Linked DNA regions of Homo sapiens: region 1 is linked to region 2. The links come from fine-mapping of genetic effects on gene expression. A gene starts in region 2. The other region holds a variant in brackets. All regions are shown on one strand. Distances are from middle to middle. Region 1 overlaps ZNF214 (zinc finger protein 214). Region 2 holds the start of ZNF215 (zinc finger protein 215).

Region 1 (5,389 bases), 72 kb before region 2:
CAGTGGAGGAAGCCCTTCCACAGTATGTTGGGGTGATATGTCAAGAAGACCTACTGAGAGATTCAATGGAAGAAAAGTACTGTGGATGTAATAAATGTAAAGGAATTTATTATTGGAACTCACGGTGTGTTTTCCACAAGAGAAATCAACCTGGAGAAAACCTCTGTCAATGCTCCATCTGTAAAGCATGCTTCTCTCAGAGATCAGACTTGTATAGACATCCAAGAAACCACATAGGTAAGAAGCTGTACGGATGTGATGAAGTTGACGGTAACTTTCATCAGAGCTCCGGAGTTCACTTTCATCAGAGAGTTCACATAGGGGAGGTACCTTATAGCTGTAATGCATGTGGTAAGAGCTTCAGCCAGATCTCTAGTCTTCACAATCATCAAAGAGTCCACACAGAAGAGAAATTCTATAAAATTGAGTGTGATAAAGACCTCAGTAGAAATTCATTACTTCACATTCACCAGAGACTTCACATAGGAGAGAAGCCTTTTAAATGTAATCAGTGTGGTAAGAGTTTTAATCGGAGTTCAGTACTTCATGTTCATCAGAGAGTCCACACAGGAGAAAAACCATATAAGTGTGATGAGTGTGGTAAGGGTTTCAGCCAGAGCTCAAATCTTCGAATTCATCAGTTAGTACACACAGGAGAGAAGTCTTATAAATGTGAAGACTGTGGTAAAGGCTTTACCCAGCGCTCAAATCTTCAAATTCATCAGAGAGTGCATACAGGAGAGAAACCTTATAAATGTGATGACTGTGGAAAGGACTTTAGTCACAGCTCAGATCTTCGCATTCATCAGAGAGTCCATACAGGGGAGAAACCCTATACTTGTCCTGAATGTGGGAAGGGCTTCAGTAAGAGTTCAAAGCTTCACACTCATCAAAGAGTACATACTGGAGAGAAACCCTACAAATGTGAAGAGTGTGGCAAGGGATTCAGTCAGCGTTCACATCTTCTCATTCATCAGAGAGTCCATACAGGAGAAAAGCCCTATAAATGTCATGATTGTGGAAAGGGTTTTAGTCACAGTTCTAATCTTCACATTCATCAGAGGGTCCATACAGGAGAGAAGCCTTATCAATGTGCTAAGTGTGGTAAAGGTTTCAGTCATAGCTCAGCTCTTCGAATTCATCAAAGAGTCCATGCAGGAGAGAAACCTTACAAATGCCGTGAATATTATAAGGGATTTGATCATAATTCACATCTTCACAATAATCATAGAAGAGGAAACTTATAAATATTGTTCATTTAGTTAACAGCTTTAATCAAAGTTTACCTAACCTTTAAACCCTATAAATCCTGCTGTTAAGGAAATCTTATAAATAACACAAGTAATCCCAAGCAACATTTATAGTTTCCCCTATCTCCCACTAAGAATTATTTGCTTCAAAAGGAGATCTTTAGAAAAAACCCTATATATTTAAAATTATAGTGTATTTTTCTTTACCTACTATAAATATAATACAGTCATAAATATATTAAACATTTAAGGAGAAAACTCTTCATTCTATTTCATTCTAGTCTTTTTTTCTGTGCATTTTAATGTGCATGAAATTGTGTGTTCAATTTTGTATTTTCACTGTCTTCAAAATATTTACTTAAATTTTGGTTTGAATTGAAACTGGTTGGCCAACTGTTAAACGACATCTCTTAACTCCCCTAAAAACTCCCTAGGAAGTAACAGAAAAGATGGAAACACATAGAACTTAAAACTCAGTTTTGGCCGGTAGAATTCAATTGTTTATGGACAAAAGCCACCTAATAAAAGATAGGAAAGCATTGTATGACATTGTGTCTGAGACAGTGTATCTGAGTTGTTATCTCTGTCAACCAGAAAACCCAGGGACCATCCTTCTGTTGCAGGGGTGCTTCACTTTGAGGTGACTACAGTGCACTCATCCCTTCCCTTTCCGGTTTTCCACGCTTAATAATAGGTTCAGATACCAAACAACAAGAAGTACAGAATTTTCTCTAAGGTGTGAAGGGTATGGACAAAAGTGCTAGAAATGGAAGATACTCCATTGGTTCGGAATTAGAGATCCAAGCAGTAGAATTTTATTTAATCTCAGTAGAACAGAGTGGTAATAGAGAAATATCTGCAAGGACAGCATTGAACTCAGAACTCTGTGCAACGATGAACCCTGAAGCTAATTATGTAAAAAGAGAGTTTGGCCATTATCTCAGAATAGAGTTAGTCGGAATACAC[A/C]GTCTTAATTATTGATACACAAATATGCTGAAGTAATACCAAGAGAAAAAAAAGTGGACATGTTTAGGAAAATTAGAGGGAATTGCAATACTGAAGAAAAGAATATCATCCTAAAGACCTGGAAACTTATTGCCCTGAAAATTAGCTGCTGCAGGCTTCAGAGGAAATTTCCAGAAATGTTGGTGTCCTTAGTGGCATAACAGAGAATCTGAACTCAGTAAAGATAGAGTAGAAATATACAAGTAGAGAAGAGTATCTAAAGTGAAAAGAGAAATAGATACAACAAAGAAGGACTTCAGGGAGCTCTGAAATACTGTATCAAAATAAATGCAATAAAAAGTAACACTGAAGAATATAAAATAATTGATAGTTAATAGATAAACTTGATCTGATCTTAAATGTATCTGAAAAGGATAATGAGATGGAAACTAAGAAAGAACAGATATGAATATCAGAGGATGGAGGTCCAGTGTGAGAATTAAAGGTGTCTCTAAGGAAGGTGAAAGAACATTTGGCATAGAATCAATGATCAAAGACATTAAGAAACTTTCTCTGAGTTAAAAGTATATGGTCACTAAGTTTTAGGCAAAACCAGTATTAAAGCAACCTTAGAAACAGGTTAGAAAGAAGCAATTAAAAGCATGCAGAAAGAAAAATTCTGGTTATCTGCAAAACCAGAAAGGGAGGGTGGATACAGAGCTCTGCAACAGTAACTCAGAAGGCAATGGAGCAGCACGTTCAGAATTTTGAGATTTGAAAAGTTTATTATCACCAGTTTTATAACAAAAGTGTCTTTCATATGTGCAGGAAACAAATATTTTTGATAAGCAAGAAAACAGTGTAGCGTATATGTGCCTTAAAGAGAGTTTGTGAATGTGGAAATCATGGTATAAAAGGACTAGTGATAAGCACTGAAATCAATTAGATATGCAGTTGTCTGGATAGTTTCCAAAACTTCAAAAAATTAAATGTGCAATAAAAATATACAAATGCTGAGTGTAAAGTGTACAAATGCTGAGTCTGGGTAGGAGAGTAAGGTTGTCAGGACACCCAGTTAAGTTTGAATTTCATATAAGCAAAGAATAATTGTTTTAGTATAAGGGTGTCCCAAATATTGCATGGGACTTACACTAAAATTTCATACATTTGAAATTCAAATTTAACTGGTCATTTCTGTTTTTAGTTGCTACATCCGGCAACTGGAGAGAGACCATAAGTGCCACATTTCTGATCTTAAATAGCAGGGACTCATAATAACATTTTCTTTTTGAATGACAATTTAAGAAAGGCCTTTTTTTTTTTTTTTTACAAACCTAAAATTACAACTTAATAAAACTAAAAAAAGTGCATATACCTTTCAAAATGGGAGAAGATAAAAGCAAAAATTATTCAGTCTCTGTAGCAATGACTACCAAAAAAATCCCCAAGAAGTTGGCCTAAAATATTAAAATAAACGGATCAAGATGATTAAAGCCAAATGTATCAAAACACGTTCAATGCTTCATTTTAAAATGTTGAAAACACTGGGTTAAAAATTTCTAATTATGTGCTATAACAGATGAAAATGTGATATTGCTTAAATGTGAGACCAGGTGAAGGTTTATTAGACAAACATAAAGGAGTACCTACAATATGTTTTTAAAGGTGAAAAGTGCACTAATTTAAACTCATTAAGTTGGGCAAAAATACAAAATCATTAGTTTTCTAAATTCTTGGAATATTCAGGAAATGTAATTGTCAAAAAATCTGGTTTTTAATTTACAAAAATGCAGAATGAAAATAATAAAAAACGGGGAAATATAAAAGAGGACTTGACTAGAGGAGTCTTAATTTTCCTTAAGGGAATGTTCCTAATTTATATATTTGTTTCAGATCTCATGAAAATCCCAATGAATTTGAGATAAAGATGTTCTAGTCTTTTAAGGAAAATAGACATTGGAGAAGAGCAAAGATAATTGTAAGAAAGATTAATGATATTGCCCTAACATATAATAAATTGTATATTGGTATATGAAGTTGTAATAATGGAGAATTTAATTGTATATTTGAAAAAAAAAGTTAGGATTCTAAGTCACTAAATAGCTTAGAAATATACCAGTGTATGGATTATATATGTGTATTTGAACATACAGTGCATATGCTTATAGAGTTCACACATGATAAAGATCTGCGAATAGGAGGATTATTCAGTAAATTGTGCTGAGATCATTATTTAACTCTTTAATAAAAAAGACTTTCATTTCATGACCTATATCAGAATAAAACATTGATTGAATACAGGTTTTCAAGCTGTGTTCCATGGACCTCCATGTGGTTTCATGAAGACTAGTATCTTCAGAAGCAAAAGAACTGCAAGTGTAGCCACATTTTATCTCTTCATATGCAAAAATGACTTGATTTTGTTTTTTTAAAGGAGGTTCCACTATAAAATATTTAAAATTCTCTAGAGGGATTTTTAAACACTCAGAAAAAATACACAATTTGACCACATAAAAATTTTTAAACTGGGTGAAAAACATATAAGTCAGACAAAAATAGGAGAAATATTTGCCATGATTGTGACAGTACAAACTCTTTTTAATTAAATGGACACCTAATTTAAAATTTTGACGAAGAACATAAACAGATTAAAGCAAAGCAGTATCACTTTTATTAACAAAAATGACAATAGCCATTTTCAGCAAGAGTATGGAGTGATGTATACTTATGCTTATGTTGAGGGTAAATTGATAACGACTTTTTGGAAAAACAATTTGGCCAATCCTGAGCCTTAAAATTGCTGTTACTCTTTGCTACAGTAATTCTACAGGAATATGTTCTATGGAAATAGAGTTTCATACTATTAGGGGGCTTGTAAAGAACAGGGTTATGTAACATCATATGGTAGAAGCTCATATGCACATACTCAGATCCCAGGATGTTATCTCACTAAAACAAGTGAGGGAGCAAGTGAGCCATGGAGCTCTCCATGGAAAAAGAATTCTGTGTAGAGGGTAGAGCAAGTGCAAAGGGTCTGAGGCTAGGAATGGACCTGGAATGTACTGCAGCACTGTAAGGGAGGAGGAAAACAGAGGGAAATTAAAGGTAATAGGGCCTTGTAAGTAATTGTAAAGGCTTTGTCTTTTATTCTAAGTGAAGTAAAAAGCCACTGGAGGGTTTTAAGTGATCTAACA
Region 2 (5,389 bases):
AATAGGAAAAATTAGTGGAGGGGTATATGGACACTCTGTTGTACTGTCTTCTCTATTTTCCTGTAACTTTATCCAATTTATTTAGAAACTTTTTTTCTCTGTGAATGCAAGCTCCCCAGAGGATTTCCCACAGCAAGTGGAAAGCCACAGAGGCAGGTGCCTTCTGGCTTGAAAGATCCCATCTAGGTTGTCATGGCCAGGGGAGGAAAAGGGTAATGGTGCCTTTCATGGGCTATTCCTGGGTCTCGCGGGATAGAAAATTGCTTCCAGTTGCCCTGAAACAAGTGCTTCCTGTAATGAATCCCTCTGGAGTACTCCTTGACATCTCCCCAAACTCATAACAAAAGACCATCTTTCTCCTCATTCGCAGCTGCCAAGGCCCACCGTCAATACAACAGACTGAAAACCCGCCACAACTGTTGACATCCACGACCCTCCTGATCTGGCCTCATTAGCTCCACTTTTGAGCCACCAGCCAAGAGAGAGCTCTTAAATATGACTGGTGGAATAGTCCTGAAGTAGTATAATTTAGTCCAACAAAAAAATGAACTATGGGCCCAGATACTTTGAAAGTAACATAAATGGAGAAAGAAAAAATAAAAGCTCACAGGCCATATGTCAAAGACAAAACAGAAAAGGCTTTATACTAAAAAGTAAAAATAACAGAGATGTTAATTGCAACAATAAATGTACCGGGTAAAAATTTAAACTCAAACTACATAAAACTCAAAAGACATCCGAAACGAGAACTCCAAAACTAAATGTAAAAGAATTTTTAAAAAATACCAGGCAAACAAAAAATATTCAAGAGTTTAGTGAATTAAAATTATAATGAATTAAAAGCACAAATACATTAGAGGAAACTAAATGATTATAACTCATAATGAAATATAACTCATTAAATGTACAACATACTTGAAACATTTTTGGCAAAATTCTCAGAAAACAAGAAATGAAGTCAACAGTGATACAATAGAAATGGGATATTAGGTAACTTTCTCAGACTCTGACAGATAAAGTCAAAAAAGTAATAGTATAGTGGATATAAATAATATGCTTAGCCTAATAGATAAATAAAACTAGATAAAATGTAGTTTCTATTCAAGCACCTAAGGGAATGTTTACAAAAGCAATTTATTAGGCTACCAAATAGAAAATCCTTGATAAATGGTAAACAAGAGTAGTGGAAACCATATTTATTACTAGAATGCAAAACCAGAAATTAACACCACATAGAAAAAACAATTTCACCTACTTTAAAATTCAAATGTTTGCTTCTAAAAAAAAAGATAAAAGAGAATCAAAAGGACAACTGCAAAGTATCTAAAAACAGTAAAAACATTGTACGTCAAAATCTAAAGCGCACAGCTGAAGCTCCTGATAGGCAATGGAAAAGCCTTACATATAATTAAACAAGAATGAGATGCATTAAATATCCAACTCAGGAAATAAAAAAAAAGCAACAAATATACTGGGAGGTTTGTAGGTGAAAAACACAAATTAATGAATTACTCACTGTAAACAGTTACAGAGCTAGGACAGGGAGAGACGTTCAGGATGGCATGCTGCATTTAGGTAAGATTTCCGAGGTGGAATAGTTTTGATGATAGAGATCCAAGGTGTGACGTGACTGCAAGTAGCTTAAGTGGCAAATGATGAACACTGGAATATACAAAGCCAGGAAATATAACAGTTAAACTCTAAAGTACTGAATAGATGCCTCTGATATAAAGGTGGGATTCAGGATTAAGACACGGAGCCAGTACCACTGTGACGGAGGGACCTGAAGTTGTAGTGGATGGTTAGACTAATATAACCAGGTGGCACCAGTTCTACGGTTTTATGGCCGCAAGGAACTCGAACAGCTGCTAATTATGGAAAAAAGGTACTGTCTGTGAAGAGGGTTATTTCTAATCAAACAGGTTGTAGGTAGGACAGCTGCTTGAGGTAAGAACCACCTGGCGAGAGTAGCTTAGATAAAGAGGAACAGAAAACAGTTTGCAAATAAGTGACTGAATAGAAGTCATTTATGTTAAATGGAGAAAGAATTATTTTAAAATAAGTACGATACTTGGAGGTTTTAATCTTTTAGGGAGGTGGCCAGGAATGACTGGGAAAACAAGGCAATATGAATTAATTAAAACTCCATTGTCTTTCCCAGTTGATTGATCCAGTCACGCTTGGTTTTTCCATGAGGCATCAATACCAGCCATTCCCAAACCAGCTGATCATAACATACTAACCACTCTGCGCGTCTGGAGACTGCCCCTATTGCAGAGTGGAAGAGGCGACAGGAGTGTGGTTAAATCCTTGCTTTAGCGGAGCTGGATCCTGACCCCAGCCGTCCCGCCGCCCACCCCCTCGCCCTCTGTCGCTGCTCTCAACGCTTGTCTTACTTCCGCAGCCCACGTTTCCATCCCTCCCGTCAGCTCGCGCCCTCCTCCAGGTTTTCCGGCACAGACCTTGGAGGGCAGCGTGGAAACTGGGTAACTGCAAGCAAGCTGAGGTAAGCTGCACGTTCCGCATGGACGCCCTCAAGCGTGATTCCCAATTCCAAGACCCCGCGTCCCCACCGCCCGCTGACGAGAACGATACCCGTGAGCACCGCTCCTCTCCAGTGGCCCGTTCAGTCACTCACAAGCGCCAGTTCTCAGAGGAGCCGCGGAATCGCTGTCTTGGACAGTGAAGGGAGCTGGCGTTGGTAATCACGCTGCAACTAGGAATCCCTGACCTCGCCGAACCCTCAACTCACTGCCGGCTCCGAGTTTCATAAATTGCCGCGGAACAACCTCGACGCACTCTTGCGCACGCGCACCAGCTGTGGAAGGAACCCCCTAGGAGCCCCCGCGACCCGGATCGGTGAGGTAGACCAGGCCTTTGCCAGCCCCGTCCCTTTCTGCAGGCCCCGTCCCTTTCTGCAGGCCCCGCCCACGCCGCACACTTGGAACTCTGGCCCTGTGAATGGACTCACGGTGAGCTTCTAGTGGCTTAAAGAAATGAGCGTCATACTTCCGGCGCTGCCTCATCCCGTCCGGGGAAACTAGTCCAAATCGCCTTTCTGTTCCCCACACCCCATTTGTCTGGAATCAAAAAACAATGACAATTTCGACAAGACATTGTCTCTTACATGGTCTTTATTGGTTTATTGGTTCACAGATTCATTCATTCAGTTTTGTATGGAAGTGAGAGGGCTTGCAGTTCGTTGTTCAGTTTTGGCTTGTTAAGACTGAGGTACTTTGTGGCATCTGAGAAGCATTGTCAATTAGGCATTTGGATGTAGGCATTTGGGAATTTAGAGATGTCTGGGGCTAGACCTGTAAAATTTGGGTCAATCTGGGTAGATGGTGATTGATGCTATCCATTGGAATAGGACTGCAGAGAAAGGGACAGAGAGGAAGAGAGAAAATAGAAGGAAATGGGCTGGAATTGGCCCAGGGAACACCAACACCATTGGTTGAGTCAGGAAGGCGGACCTGCAAAAAAGAGAGAGGAGGATCAGCCTGAGAGGTAGGAGGAAATCTGGTGGGTGTGGAGACACAGAGGGAAGGGATGTGTGTGTCACAAAGGAGAGAATGCTTGGTGGCATTAAGTACATGATAATATGATTAGTGCTTGCCTAGAGGCATGTGGACAGTGCTGTAGGAGCAGAGTGAAAGAACTTAAACCAGAGAGAGCTTTATATCTAGGCCAGGAGTGGACTAAGGTAAAACAAGATGGCAACTTTGAACAGCTAGTGACACAAAAAAACAAGGACACACCATATAGTTTCTTTTATTTCTTTTTAAATAGACCTTATTTTTTAGAGCAGTTTTGGATTTACAGTTTTGGAAAAATTGAGAAGGTAATATACAGAGTTACCTTCTACTCCACAACTAGTTTTCCCTGTTATTACCCTCTTAAATTATTATGGTATATTTGTTACAACTAAGAAAATAAAAATAAAATATAAAAATAAAAAATAAAATAACATTGATACATTAAGTCCACAATACTTTATTCAGATTTCTTATTTTCTTTGCTTTTTTCTTTTCTTTTCTTTCTTTCTCTTTCTTTCTTTCCTTTCTTTCTTCTTTCTTTCTTTCTTTCTTTCTTTTTCTCTCTTGCTTGCTTGCTTCTTTTCTTTCTTTCTTCTTTTTTTGACTGGGTCTCACTCTGTCACCCAGGCTGCCAGGCTGGAGTACAGTGGTGTGACAGCTCACTGCAGCCTGGACCTCCCTGAGCTCAAGTGATTCTCCCATCTCAGCCTCCCAAGTAGCTGGAACTACAGGTGCTTGCCACCATGCCTGGCTAATTTTTTTTTAAATTTATTTTTTGTAGAGATGGATTTTTGCCATGTTGTCCAGGCTGGTAAGGACCAGACTTCTTTAGCTGGTTTATTTGTTTTGTTTTTATCTTTTTTCTTTCCTCTGATGCAGGATCCCAACTGGAATATCACATTACATTTAGTTGTCATGTCTCTTTAGGCTCTTCTGGACTGTGACGATTTCTCATACTTTCCTTGTGTTTCCTAACCTTGGCAGTGTTGAGGAGTACTGGTCAAGTATTTTGTATGATCTCCCTCTATTGGGAGTTTTCTGATATTTTTCCTATGATTAGACTGGAGATGAAGGTCACAGAGATAGAGTGCCATTTTTATTATATCATATCACAGGTACATACTATCAACATGACTTATCATTGTTGGTGTTCAATTTGATCGCCTGACTCAGGTTGTGTTTGTCAGAAGACATTTTTTTTCTTTCCAACAGTGGCAATGGATGCAGCAATATTCAGTTTCCAGAATCAGCAGCTCCGGCAGCAGTGTCCTGTGCTGATGGTGTTGGCAGGTAAATCATGCTTCTAGTGCTGAATGGAAGTCTTGTCCTCATAGAGCCAATTCTGTGGTACAATTTTGGTCTGTGGTTCTGGCTACATGACTCGAATACTATTTCAATATTTTTACGTTTAGCTTAAATCATGCTTAGTTTCTGTTGCTTGAAACTAAAAGCCCTGACTGATACGTCATCATTATGATGATTTCTAGGTGTATGTATTAAGTATGTTTTCATTAGAATTTTTTGTCTTTATTTTCCCCTTCCCTCCCTAGTATGTAGTGGTTTCATGCAGACAGCTTTGTGAAGAAGCCCCATTGGCATCTATTTTGGTGGAATGAGTGGGAACATAATTCTCAGTGTGTCAGTAATCCATTGCTGCATACAGACCATTTCAAACTTTAGTGCTTTAAAATAGCAATCATTTTGTTTTACTCAGGAGTGTGTTTGAAATTTGGTCAGATGGGATGGCAGTTATCATTAACACCAATATTTAAGATATGACCATGGGAATGAGTAGCTGTAATCATTGGAGAAGCGAGGATTAAGGAATCTCAGAATGCAAACTATTTGAATAT

Evidence for each region. PIP is the estimated chance that this variant, and not a neighbour inherited with it, causes the effect. A credible set is the group of variants that fine-mapping cannot tell apart.
Region 1: its variant is the best candidate, but not a certain one, in a credible set for the expression of ZNF215 in tibial nerve (GTEx, PIP 0.50).

What each region holds. Positions count from the first base shown.
Region 1 is chr11:6,995,720-7,001,108 of GRCh38, reverse strand. ZNF214 (zinc finger protein 214) reads left to right here. Exons shown (of 3, transcript NM_013249.4): 3 at 1-4,024. The coding sequence ends at 1,247. Among named protein-coding and RNA genes, the nearest start is that of ZNF214, 22 kb to the left of the region's middle. The variant A/C (reference allele first, on the strand shown) is at 2,217.
Region 2 is chr11:6,923,935-6,929,323 of GRCh38, reverse strand. ZNF215 (zinc finger protein 215) reads right to left here and starts at 2,898. Exons shown (of 7, transcript NM_013250.4): 1 at 2,639-2,898; 2 at 1,517-1,662. It overlaps LOC107984019 (a long non-coding RNA gene), which reads left to right. Exons shown (of 4, transcript XR_001748112.3): 2 at 2,162-3,507; 3 at 4,749-4,826.